Linked DNA regions of Homo sapiens. The protein of the gene in region 3 purifies or fractionates together with the protein of the main gene of each other region. This does not show direct contact. Each region holds a gene or a part of one and is shown on either strand. Other genes may lie near its edges.

Region 1 (3,651 bases), on a different chromosome or scaffold from region 3:
TTAATCTTGGAAAGCTTGGCTTCCTCCACAAGGATGTACTCTTTCAGAGACTGCACCAGCTCTTTCTCTGCATAAATCAGGTCAGTCATGTGCCCTGCAAGGGAGAGAAGAAAGACACCAGTGAGAAACAGATGAGGGATGTCCAGCCTCCTTCCTTGGGGCACAGAATACCAGCACAGAAGCAAGTCCCCTGGGATAAGAACATGTCAGCTCTCTGAGGATTATGGGGACTTGGAGTTAAAGGGGGCCTAGGCACTCATGGGGCTCTATCTCGCAACTTCAGGAAGAAAGAGGCAGAGGCACCAAGGGGATGTTTGAGATAAGTGCACTGGATGTCACTCAAGAAGCAGCCCTAAATCTCATTCTCCGACTGTTACATAGCTGGTCATGACACTGGGGCATGGATATCCTGGGGGCTCACCACAGGATAAAAAGCTCTGAACTTTAGGTCGGAAGGATAGGAAAAGCTTGATCCTCAGGATACAAAGGATTTGCTGCTCAGAACCACTCTCTGGTCCATGGGCAAGGTGGTCAAAAAGACCAGAGAGCCCAAGTGCAGCCTGCACTTCCCAGGAAGAAAGACCCAATTCAGACATCTGGCTCCCTGAACATCCAGATCATTGGGATCTTATAGGGGAAAACAGCAACTCTGCCAGTTCCACTCTCCTCAGAACTGGCCAAAACCAGTAGTTAAGGCTATCCCACTCTAAATGAGAACAGGCTGCAGCCAGAGACATCCGTGGCATGTGAGCCAAGGTGTCAGGGAGACGACAGTCCTGTTGGCACGTACCAATAGAGGTGAAGAATTCGGCCTGCACACAGCTCAGGACACCAAACCAGGCCATCAGCAATGCAGACACCCAGAGTTTCATGGTCACAGAGGGAAGTGTCTGAAAGGCATTCAATGACAATCACTGGATCAACAAAGTGAAAAAGACTAATTTAGGTGAGGAGACACATAGGCATGTACACACATATGCAGATAATCAAACATATCAAAATCCTGGCCTAGCACACAGAAGCTAAAAAGGACAAACAGCAGAAAGAACAAAGAGCGTGCAGCCAGTGATGTGTGCTCAATTCTGGTCCCTGCTCTGGGAAGTCACGTGCCCTGCGGAGAGAGCCCATCCTCTCAACTCCCAGCAACCACCTGTACCATGAGAAGGCGGAATCGCAGTGGGGTACAGTCAGCTCGGGTTCCAATGGTCTGTCAGTCCAAGATTCTGGCCCACTCCTTCTTATTTCACAGACTGCTGTTTGTTTCTATCTTACCTTCCAACACATATGCCAGGACAGTGCCAGGTTTTGGGGAACCAGTCCCTGCCCACAAGGAGGCAACAGTACATGAGAGACAATAACAGAAAGATAATTTGACACAATATCCTCCAGAGTACCAACACCCAAACTAAGGTGTACAACAGATGGCCAGCCAGAAGAGGAATAAAACTAACCCTTGTCAGTCTGCACCTGCCAGAGAAAGAGCAGTCAGAGGAGACAGTCTCCTAGGTAGACAGTGTTCTTCCTGTAGTAAGGCTCCTTGGCAGACACTGTTCTCACTGGCCCGTCACCATTCATTCACAAATATTTACTGAAGACCTGCAGATGCCAGGCACTGATCTAGGCACTCAGGATACAAAAATGAATATGGCACACATGGCCAAAACCTCAGGCTGGGCTGCTGACATGGGAAAGGGGCCAGCTACTGTCTTCTCATCAGCCCAGAAATAGGCACAACCTGAGACAAACCCCACTGGCAGTAAACCTCAGTCCACAACAGAAGCCTCCGATACCGTCTCCCAGCTCAGCCATGCAGCCTAGACTGTGCTGGAGGATTAGCACCCATCTGTACCCCAGCTCTGCCGGTCTTCTTCCTGCCCTGCTTTTGAGCACCCCACTGGAGTGCTCAAATGGAAATTCACTAAGACAAAGCAAGCAAAACAAAGGAAATACAAATGCTTTCCCAAAAAAACATAAGCCTTATCTGACAGAATTCTAAGTCTAAGATAATGCCAGTTCATCAGTTTTTTGCCCGCCATACTTGATTAGACACACAGCACACCCACCATTCCTCATCTTACTCTTTCAGAAGAAATCCTAATCCATTGAGATTCCAGGTTAGGCTCAGAGAAGGCCAACCACAACTCCCATCTGCAAATGGATCCTCTATCAGAAGGAAAGCATAAGTGAATGGCGCCATGTGTTCATGCCTATGCCAAATGTCTGCAGAGCTGACAGTCTTCCTGTCATAGTCTAGGTGTGGGGGTCCCAAGACACACAGGACAATTATCTTCCAACCTGGAACCTGCTGCAGGGTAGGGCGTATTGTGCTAAGGGGTCCATTAGGGAGTTAGAGCAGCAGAAGAGAGCAAGTCATCAAGAGAAAGTGAGTAAGCCTGGGCTTGCCCTGAGGCAGAGTCCAGGCCCTCCTGGTTCTAGCCACAGGTCTGCTCCAAGGCCTTACTATACTGTCTTCTCTATCCCAGGATTTCAGAAGGCTTCTCTCTTGCTTACACAAGCCCCTTATACCTAAGGGATTGGGTGTCTGTTTCTTGTTCCTCAAAAGGCTTGACTGGCTCAGGCTCAGCACCTTCTGTATGTATGTAGGGAGGGGACAGTGAAAACATAGAGCTGGGAGGATGTATCTGTGATCAGAAAGGGACCAGCTGACTGCTCCTCAGAGCTGGGGTGGTGGGAGAACAGGGCCCAGGCAGGTTCCAAACCAGACATGGTTGGAAGTGGGGAACCCAGCATCTCTACCCAGGTGTGTCTCCAGTTGCAGTTGCATACCTTTTTAGAGGCCAGATAAATTCCAGGGAGGAAGTCTGTCCATTCCTTTCAAATCATTCTGCTCCTATCATCTACGGTTCATACCTCACAACACTCAGGGAAAGCCAGGTTTCTTCATTACATGAATACCAGCTGTGATTTCTCTGGAATGTGCGATCTGGCTTAGACTGAGCCCATTCTTGAATCTCAGCCTGGAGGCAGAGCCTCAAAGAATCACAGATAGGGTTTGGGCAGAGCCTCAAAGAATCACAGATGGGGTTTGGGCAGAGCCTCAAAGAATCACAGGTAATTACAGATGACTTACCTACCAAGAGCCTGCAAAGTCTTGCTCTGGTGGGAGAAGGGGATAACTAACTCTGCTAGCCTGGAGAGCTGGGCACCTCCAAGCAGCAGCTCCCAGACTACCACATCAACACTGACATCTCTGGCAGGGGTACTCTGGAGCCCTACCCCATTTCTCCCAAGCCTGGGCCCCTTAACTCAAAAGGCTCTGTACAAAAAGTCCTCTAATTAGAGTCAGATTGGGAGGAGGCAGCATCCGAGAGGGACTGTGCCCCACAATGTGGGAAAGGCCAACCTCCAACCCATCTCATAACTATGCCCACAGCTTGCTTAAGACAGAGTAGGTGAAAGTATGTGTACCTGCTGAGTGCCCCTACAAAGTGTCCAGTGCTGCTAAAAGCCCTCCCAGAAACCCTCAGAATCCAACTGGAATAAGTCTGGAGGTGAACAATGTCAAACCCACTTTTATGAAAAACAAAGTGACATCTTGAGCAGAAAACCAATACTGAGTTTTATCTGTGCTGCATCCCCAGAGTTTAGAACAATGTCTGTCCCATACCAGGAACACAACAAAAAATACTT
Region 2 (3,651 bases), on a different chromosome or scaffold from region 3:
TTAAAAAGCTTTAAATTGGGACCAGGTGCAGTGGCTCATACTTGTAATCCAAGCACTTTGGGAGGCTGAGGCAGGAGAATTGCTTGAAGCCAGGAATTTGAGATCAGTCTGAGCAACAAAGTGAGACCCGGTCTCTACAAAACAATTTTAAAAATTGGCCGGGTGCTGTGGCACACAGTTGTAGTCCTAGCTGCTTGGGAGGCTGAGGCAGGAGGATTGCTTGGGCCAAAGTTTGAGGCTGTAGTGAGCTGTGATCATGCCACTGTACTCCAGCTTGGGTGACAGAGCAGAAGACTCTGTCTCTAAAAAAAAAAAAGAAAAGGAAAAAAGCTTTAAGTCTCTAGTTATTTTGTAGTGTTTTAGAAATGTTCATTTTCTCCTACCCTTTCAGCCCCATTTTTTATTAGACTTTTCTCATATTTAAAAAGAAAATATTTGATTTAATCTTTCTACAATGTATATGTATTTAAAAATGTAACATACCCCATAAATATATACTATTATTTGTTAAAATTTTTTTAATAAAAAACAGGATGTAAGGTAAACAAAACATTTTGGATATAAGACTTGATTTAATATTAGGTAACATTTGATATCTTCCATAAAAATTGGATTGTTGTTTACAATTAATATTGGAAGTATAAATTCATTCTCTGAGTGTTAAATTGTGATTACTTGTGACTGAACTTCAGTTATGGCTTCAATGTGATAAGAAGCCTAGTAAATTATTTGAATAATTTTCCTAAAGCAAAAGTACTTACATAGTAACTTCTAAGTATATTTGACATCAGACATTGGAAAAATTAATGCTTCATTTTTTTCCCACAGGTTTCGTTATATTATCCTGAAGCAGAAGTTTTTAGAAGCTTTATGTGTTAACAACGCGATGTCAGCAGAAGATGAGCCCCAGCATGTAAGATTTTTATTCCTGAAGGTTTGCGCCCTAGTCTTGTTTTCAGTCATAAGTATTTTAGTCACTAAAACGAAGGATTAGCATCACAAGTTTTCAGAGTTTTTATGAGCTGGGATGGGGCAAGATCTGGTGTTTTCCAGGTGTAGTATTTTCATTCTGTAGCGCTTCTAAACTTGTTCCATGGTTTAAGCCAAGATATATAAATAGCTGGCTAGTTGAAGAGTGTGTGCATCTCTCTTGTTTAAGGTAAGTCAGCAATAGATAAAGTTTGACTTGATGACTCTTCATCATTTCTTCTTTTTTTTAAATCCCGGAAGTGGGTTGGTTATATTTATGTCCTTTTTCTCTGTCTTTTCTGTATTGTCTTTGATCCAGAGATAGTTTTTTTTTTGCTGAAATGTTTGTCTTCATGACTATTTAAATTTAATGAAATTAAATTCATTTTGATTAGTAAAGTGACTTTTAAAGATTCAGTGTAATACTAAAACCGAGAAAACTTGTATTAAGTTCTGGTAATTGTTAACTGAAGTAAAGTGTCTTAGTCCATTTGACCTGCTATAACAAAATATCATAAACTAGGGGGCTAGTAAACAATAGAAGTTTATTTCTTACAGTTCTGGTAGCTGGAAAGTCCAAGATCAAGGTACCAGCAGATTCATTGCCTGGTGAGGGCCTGTGCTCTGGTTCATGGATGGTGCCTTCTAGCTGTGTTTTCAGCTGGTTAAAGAGGCTAGCTAGCTCTCTGGGGTCTCTTATATGGGCACTAATCTAATTCACGAGGGCTGAGCATTTATGACCTAGTCACCTCCCAAAGGCCCTACTTTTCCAATACCATTACCTTGCGGGGTTAGGATTTCAACATAGGAATTTTAGGGAGGCACAAACATTCAGACTGAGGCAAAAACCAAAGGATTTTACAGTGGGGACTTTCAGATACAGATATATTTGCCAGATAATGATGTTCAAAAGTGAAAAGAACACTGGAACATGAGTTAGGAGACCTATTTTTTATTCCGTCTTTGCCACTAATCAACTGAATTACCTTGGTAAATGTGTACCCTGACTTTTCCCATATGTAAGATATGGTGGCTAGACTAGGTGAGTGCTGAAGTTCCTTACATCATTAAAAGCTTATGATTCAAAGACAATATTCACTATACAAATTATTATAATTTGTCTCTCAGCTAAGCTTCCATTTTGGTCTGTCTGGATTGTTTTGTAGTAAGTCAACTTTAGGCATTCCCTTTCTGTTTTTTTTTTTTTTTTTTGAGATGGAGTCTCACACTGTCACCCAGGCTGGAGTGCAGTGGTGCGATCTCAGCTCACTGTAACCTCTGCCTCCTGGGTTCAAGCAATTCTCCTGCCTCAGCCTCTCAAGTAGCTGGGATTACAGGTGCCCGCCACTGTGCCTGGCTAATTTTTTGTATTTTTATTAGAGACGGGGTTTCACTGTGTTGGCCAGGCTGGTCTCGAACCTCATGATCTGCCCACCTTGGCCTACCAAAGTGCTGGGATTACAGGTGTGAGCCACTGTGCTCGGCTCCCTTTTCTTGACTTTCTATCTCCACACAATTTTGCTCTAAGGTAAGTTTGGACTAACAGAGTGGCTCTTTTGCCTTTTGGGTAAGCTGGAATAATAGCAAAGTTTATAAACAATTGAACATTGGCATGCTTCAATTTTCATTTCTAGAAAAAAAATTCTTACCGTTAAAAAATTATATATTTGAGAGCTGGGCACAGTGTGGCACACCTGTGGTCCCAGCTACTTTAGAGGCTGGGGATCACTTGAGCCCAAGAGTTCAAGGCTGTAGTGCACTATATTTGTGTGTATGAATAACCCCTGCACTCCAGCGTGGGCAGCAGAGTGAGATCCTGTCTTATGCCTGAATTATAATAGAACAGTGTTTTTATAGATAAAAGTTTAATGTACTAATAAACCAAGTTTATTATTTTTATTTTAGTTGTGAAAACATTATGTTCCTATCTTGAAAGCTGTTGCATATCCTACAAATTATATGAGTATTCTGTGGCAATATAATTTATTCTTTGTACTCTTGTCGTTTTCATATTTCATAGCATGTTTTTTATAGTGATTATTTGATCATTTATATTTTTCTTACAGCTGGAATTTACCATGCAAGAAGCTGTGCAATGTTTACATGCTCTAGAAGAATACTGTCCTTCTAAAGATGACTATAGTAAGCTCTGTTTGCTTTTGACTTTGCCTCGTCTGACCAATCATGCCGAGTTTAAGGACTGGAATCCCAGCACCGCACGAGTTCACTGTTTTGAAGAGGCTTGTGTCATGGTTGCAGAATTCATCCCTGCTGATAGGAAGCTAAGTGAAGCTGGTTTTAAGGCTAGTAACAATCGTTTATTTCAGCTTGTAATGAAAGGCCTGCTTTATGAATGCTGTGTAGAATTTTGTCAGAGTAAAGCAACTGGAGAAGAAATTACAGAAAGCGAAGTGCTTCTTGGCATCGACCTCTTATGTGGTAATGGTTGTGATGATTTGGATCTGAGTTTACTGTCATGGCTTCAGAATCTTCCATCTTCTGTCTTCTCTTGTGCTTTTGAACAGAAAATGCTTAATATTCATGTTGACAAACTTCTGAAACCTACAAAAGCTGCATATGCTGATCTTTTGACTCCTCTTATCAGCAAACTCTCTCCCTATCCATCATCCCCAATGAGAAGACCTCAATCAGCTGATGCCTATATGACCCGCTCTCTGAATC
Region 3 (3,651 bases):
TGCCCCTTAGGCACTGCAAACTCCTAAAGGTCTGAACCTGAACTTTTCTTCCAGGAAATCTCCTGTGATTACAGCCCCTATCCATGGCCTCATCTTTCCCATCATCCAGGTTCAGAATCAGTCTTCTGAATCCTTCATTTCCCAATATGTCAGCCTCTAAGTCCTGCTGATTTTATCTCCTCAGTGTATTTATTTATTTTTTTTTTTTGAGACAGAATCTCACTCTGTCTGCCCAGGCTGGAGTGCAGTGGTATGATCTCAGCTCAGTGCAACCTCCACCTCCTGGGTTCAAGCAATTCTCCTGCCTCAGCCCCCTGAGTAGCTGGGATTACAGGTGGGTGCTACCACTCCTGGCTAGTTTATTTTTTATTTTAGTAGAGCTGGGGTTTCATTATGTTGGCCAGGCTGGTCTCAAACTCCTGACCTCAAGTGATTCGCCTGGCTTGGCCTCCCAAAGGGCTGGGATCACAGGTGTGAGTCACTGCACCCAGTCTGCTCAGTGTATTTTTGAGTCCTCTGTCTTTCTCCAGTGAGCCTATTCCACTGTAGCTGTGGGTCCTGCCCTGGCCTAGAAGGATAACAGATCTAGGATGTGGAACCTCTAGTGGTATGGATGGGGTGGTCTGGCAGGGACCTGTCAGGGAGGTGGCCATGCATATCCTGCTGGTGAATAGCCACATATTTGCTAACCCTTAGGCTCCTTACCGTCAGCTCTAGCTCTTGCATCCCTCTGGGTATGGCTGTTGGCTGGGCTCCCTGGGAGAGCAGGCCCTGGATCCATCAGCTGAGCCAGGGGGCCTTGCCCAGTAGCTCTGAGGCCAGCAGGAGGCATCTCACTGGAGTGGGGTCCCTGACAGACCTGGGTGGACCAGGGTGGACTTGGGTCTGGGCCAAGTAGGTCCATGCCTGGCCCCAAAGGCATGGGTGGCAGGCTATGGCTACAGCAAGTGCCCTCATCCAGTGGGGCCCCCCGATCTTGCTGGGCTTCTTGGATGGGTGAGAACTCCTGGGAGGAGTCCCCAACACTCACACGAAGTGGGGGCGAGCCAGAGCCTCCAGTTTTCTTCCGGCCCTTGGCCAGCTCGGCAAAGGAGGTGACCCTCCTGGGTGGGGAGCCAGGCCCGGCCATGGCTGCAGGGCCCTCACTCAAGCGCACTGGGCAACTCAACATACGTTCCAGCGAGCCCAGGCGGACAGGAGGGCTGCGCTGCAGGCTGCGATCATAGCTGCGGGAGCGCTGACGTCCAGTGCTGAGGTTGGGGGGTGAAGTATTCGTGTATACTTGTCCCTCAAGCACAGTGGGGCCCACAGCAGCTGCTGCTTGGGTGGAGGAACTCACTGCTTCTTGTTCCTCTGGCTGGACTTCTGGCTTCTGGAATAGGTAATACTCAGAGGGCTGGCTGGGGCCTGGGTCTGGGCCAGGGCCTGGTGGGGGACTTATCTTGGTGTGTTCCTCAGAGCAGCTAGTGATGGAAGAGCCAGCAGGGCTTGGGGATGATTGGGAAGATAGGTCACAGGTGACAAGTTTATAGTAATTTTGTGTGGCCACAACAAGACGGGCCTGGCTTTGGAAGCAGGCTGTGAGGTCAGCCACTGCTGGGCACGGCTCACAGTGTGGGCGGTAGGAGTTGCAGTTGGCATCAAGCTCAGGAGAAGAGGCATGAGGGCAACCATAGCCCCCTTCCCTTCCTCCACTTTCAGGGTGATGGGACTCATAAGACATCTTAGACTCAAATGGGGAGGGCTGCAGATCCAGATAGAAGGCGCCAGGGTCTGAGTGGCTGCAGAAGGAAGAGTCGCTGCAGGACTGTGGGGCAGAGTTGAGATTGGCACGGGGGGTGCCATGCATCTTGTTGTAGAGGGTGCTGAAGGTGACCAGCACACCATCTGAACTGTTGCAGGAGGAGTCGCTCACATAGCCCATGGACTGGTCAGCTGCCTCGGACTGACTGGATGTGCTACTGCAGCGGCAGTGCTGGTCCCCTGAGCCGGAGCATCCAGGGTTCCTTGGGGATTCATCTGAACTGAGCTTCCATTCCTGGTCAAAGGAAAAGCCAGAGGTATCGCTGGCTCCACCCCCACTGCCACTCCCACCAGGTCCCCCACACTCATCCAGCTCCATAGTCTCTGCTTCCAGCTCTGGCCGGCAGCAGTGGCTGGTGCCGCACTGCTGAGTATCCAAGGTCATCACTGGCTCCTGTTCCTGCCCTTCCACCACTCCAGCCCGACTGCGTGTTGTCCCCCATGGCCTGCCCACTCTGGGGCCAGATGGTGGCAGCTGGAAAGAGGATAGATGAAAGTTGGGCTGGCCAGTGCCATGCAGGTGGAAGGACTGCTGGGTGGCACTGTCACCAATGCTGTCATCATACAGGTCACCAAGTCCTGGCTCACCCACACCCTCCTGCAGCAAGAAGGGGTTGTGTCGTTTGGGGGCTCCAGGGCCTCTTCCATCCCGACTCCTACTCTTGGTGCTGTCTATAGACCGTGCAGTTCCTCCTGGAGTAGAGTGCAGGCTGCTGAATAGCAGGGAGTCAGCTTGTCCTAGGTCTTGATCGGGCTGGGTGATGCCCAGCTCAGGTGGGCAGAAGGGATTAGGTCTTGTGCTCCCACCACCTCCACCTGCCCCTCCACAGCACTGCCTGTCTGGGACTTGGCAGTGCACCAGGGGGATGTGATGAACGATGAGGGTCTCTCCAGTCAGCTTTGGGGGACTATCCATTCTGGAAAGTTCGAATAAGGGCTTCAACAGCACCAGACACTGTCCCTGGAGCCCAGTGGGGCAGAACACATTTCATCAGGAGAGCTTGGCACCTGGAGAGAGAGGGAAAGAAAGGGAACCTAATGTCACCTCCCTGGAAGTCAGGGGCATGCCCTTCCCTACATCATTTTCAGATGGAGAAGAGCCCAGGAAGAGAAAAGGCTTGAGTCAAGATGGAGCTTGACCACACAGCCCAATAGGCAGGTGGGGACGTAACCATGCTTTCTGCATTGCACAGGTGCAGCACCTGAGGTCCCCCTTAATTTTAAGGTCACTATGCATCAAATTATGACAAAAGGCCAAGTCCTTCTAATGCCACATATGAAGGTTTGGGCAGTACTTTCCCTTTCTCTTTCAAGGACCCTCTCCTTGGCAGTAAACAATGACCAGTCCTTAGCACAAAAAAACTATGAATAATGACACAATTAAGAAAAAACCATCTAGGATGTTTAAGGCTTAGACACAGCTATAGCACACAAGTTTACAGCCAAGAGGGAAAATCATGAATAATATGAACTCATAGCAATAAGCTATAATTTTGCAAGAAGCATTTTAAAATATACGGTATCATCTGACCAAGTGACTGTTATCTCTGATCCCCTTTCTCGTCCTACAAGCCCCAGAATATTTGTCCCTTTCTGATGACCGTGGGCTAAGTATCCTTACTATCCTCACTACTATACTAGAACTTCTTGAATGCAGACACTGAGTTGGGCATTAGGGTGACTGCAAGTATGACTGATGTCAACCTCTTCCTCCTCAATGGGGGTGGGGGGACCTAGTTTTATGTCTTTTGTATCATTCTAACACATCACACAAGATAAACGTGAAAGGCATAATACATTCTTAACATGCGTCTAGCTCAGGATACAGACATCCTGAAGTGCCCAAAT

The links.
Region 1: the proteins of RUSC2 (region 3) and P4HA2 purify together in Homo sapiens (co-immunoprecipitation; one large-scale study listed by IntAct). This does not show direct contact.
Region 2: the proteins of RUSC2 (region 3) and WDR47 purify together in Homo sapiens (affinity purification with western blotting; one study listed by BioGRID). This does not show direct contact.

What each region holds. Positions count from the first base shown.
Region 1 is NC_000005.10:132,217,755-132,221,405, forward strand, and holds part of P4HA2 (prolyl 4-hydroxylase subunit alpha-2 isoform 2 precursor), read right to left. Parts: intron 891-3,651; 5' UTR 873-890; coding exon 791-872; intron 165-790; exon of another isoform or gene 95-164; coding exon 1-94. UniProt on the Homo sapiens protein: Catalyzes the post-translational formation of 4-hydroxyproline in -Xaa-Pro-Gly- sequences in collagens and other proteins.
Region 2 is NC_000001.11:109,011,103-109,014,753, reverse strand, and holds part of WDR47 (WD repeat-containing protein 47), read left to right. Parts: intron 1-826; exon of another isoform or gene 827-828; coding exon 829-913; coding exon of another isoform or gene 914-934; intron 935-3,035; coding exon 3,036-3,651.
Region 3 is NC_000009.12:35,545,590-35,549,240, reverse strand, and holds part of RUSC2 (AP-4 complex accessory subunit RUSC2), read right to left. Parts: intron 2,812-3,651; 5' UTR 2,720-2,811; coding exon 706-2,719; intron 1-705. UniProt on the Homo sapiens protein: Associates with the adapter-like complex 4 (AP-4) and may therefore play a role in vesicular trafficking of proteins at the trans-Golgi network.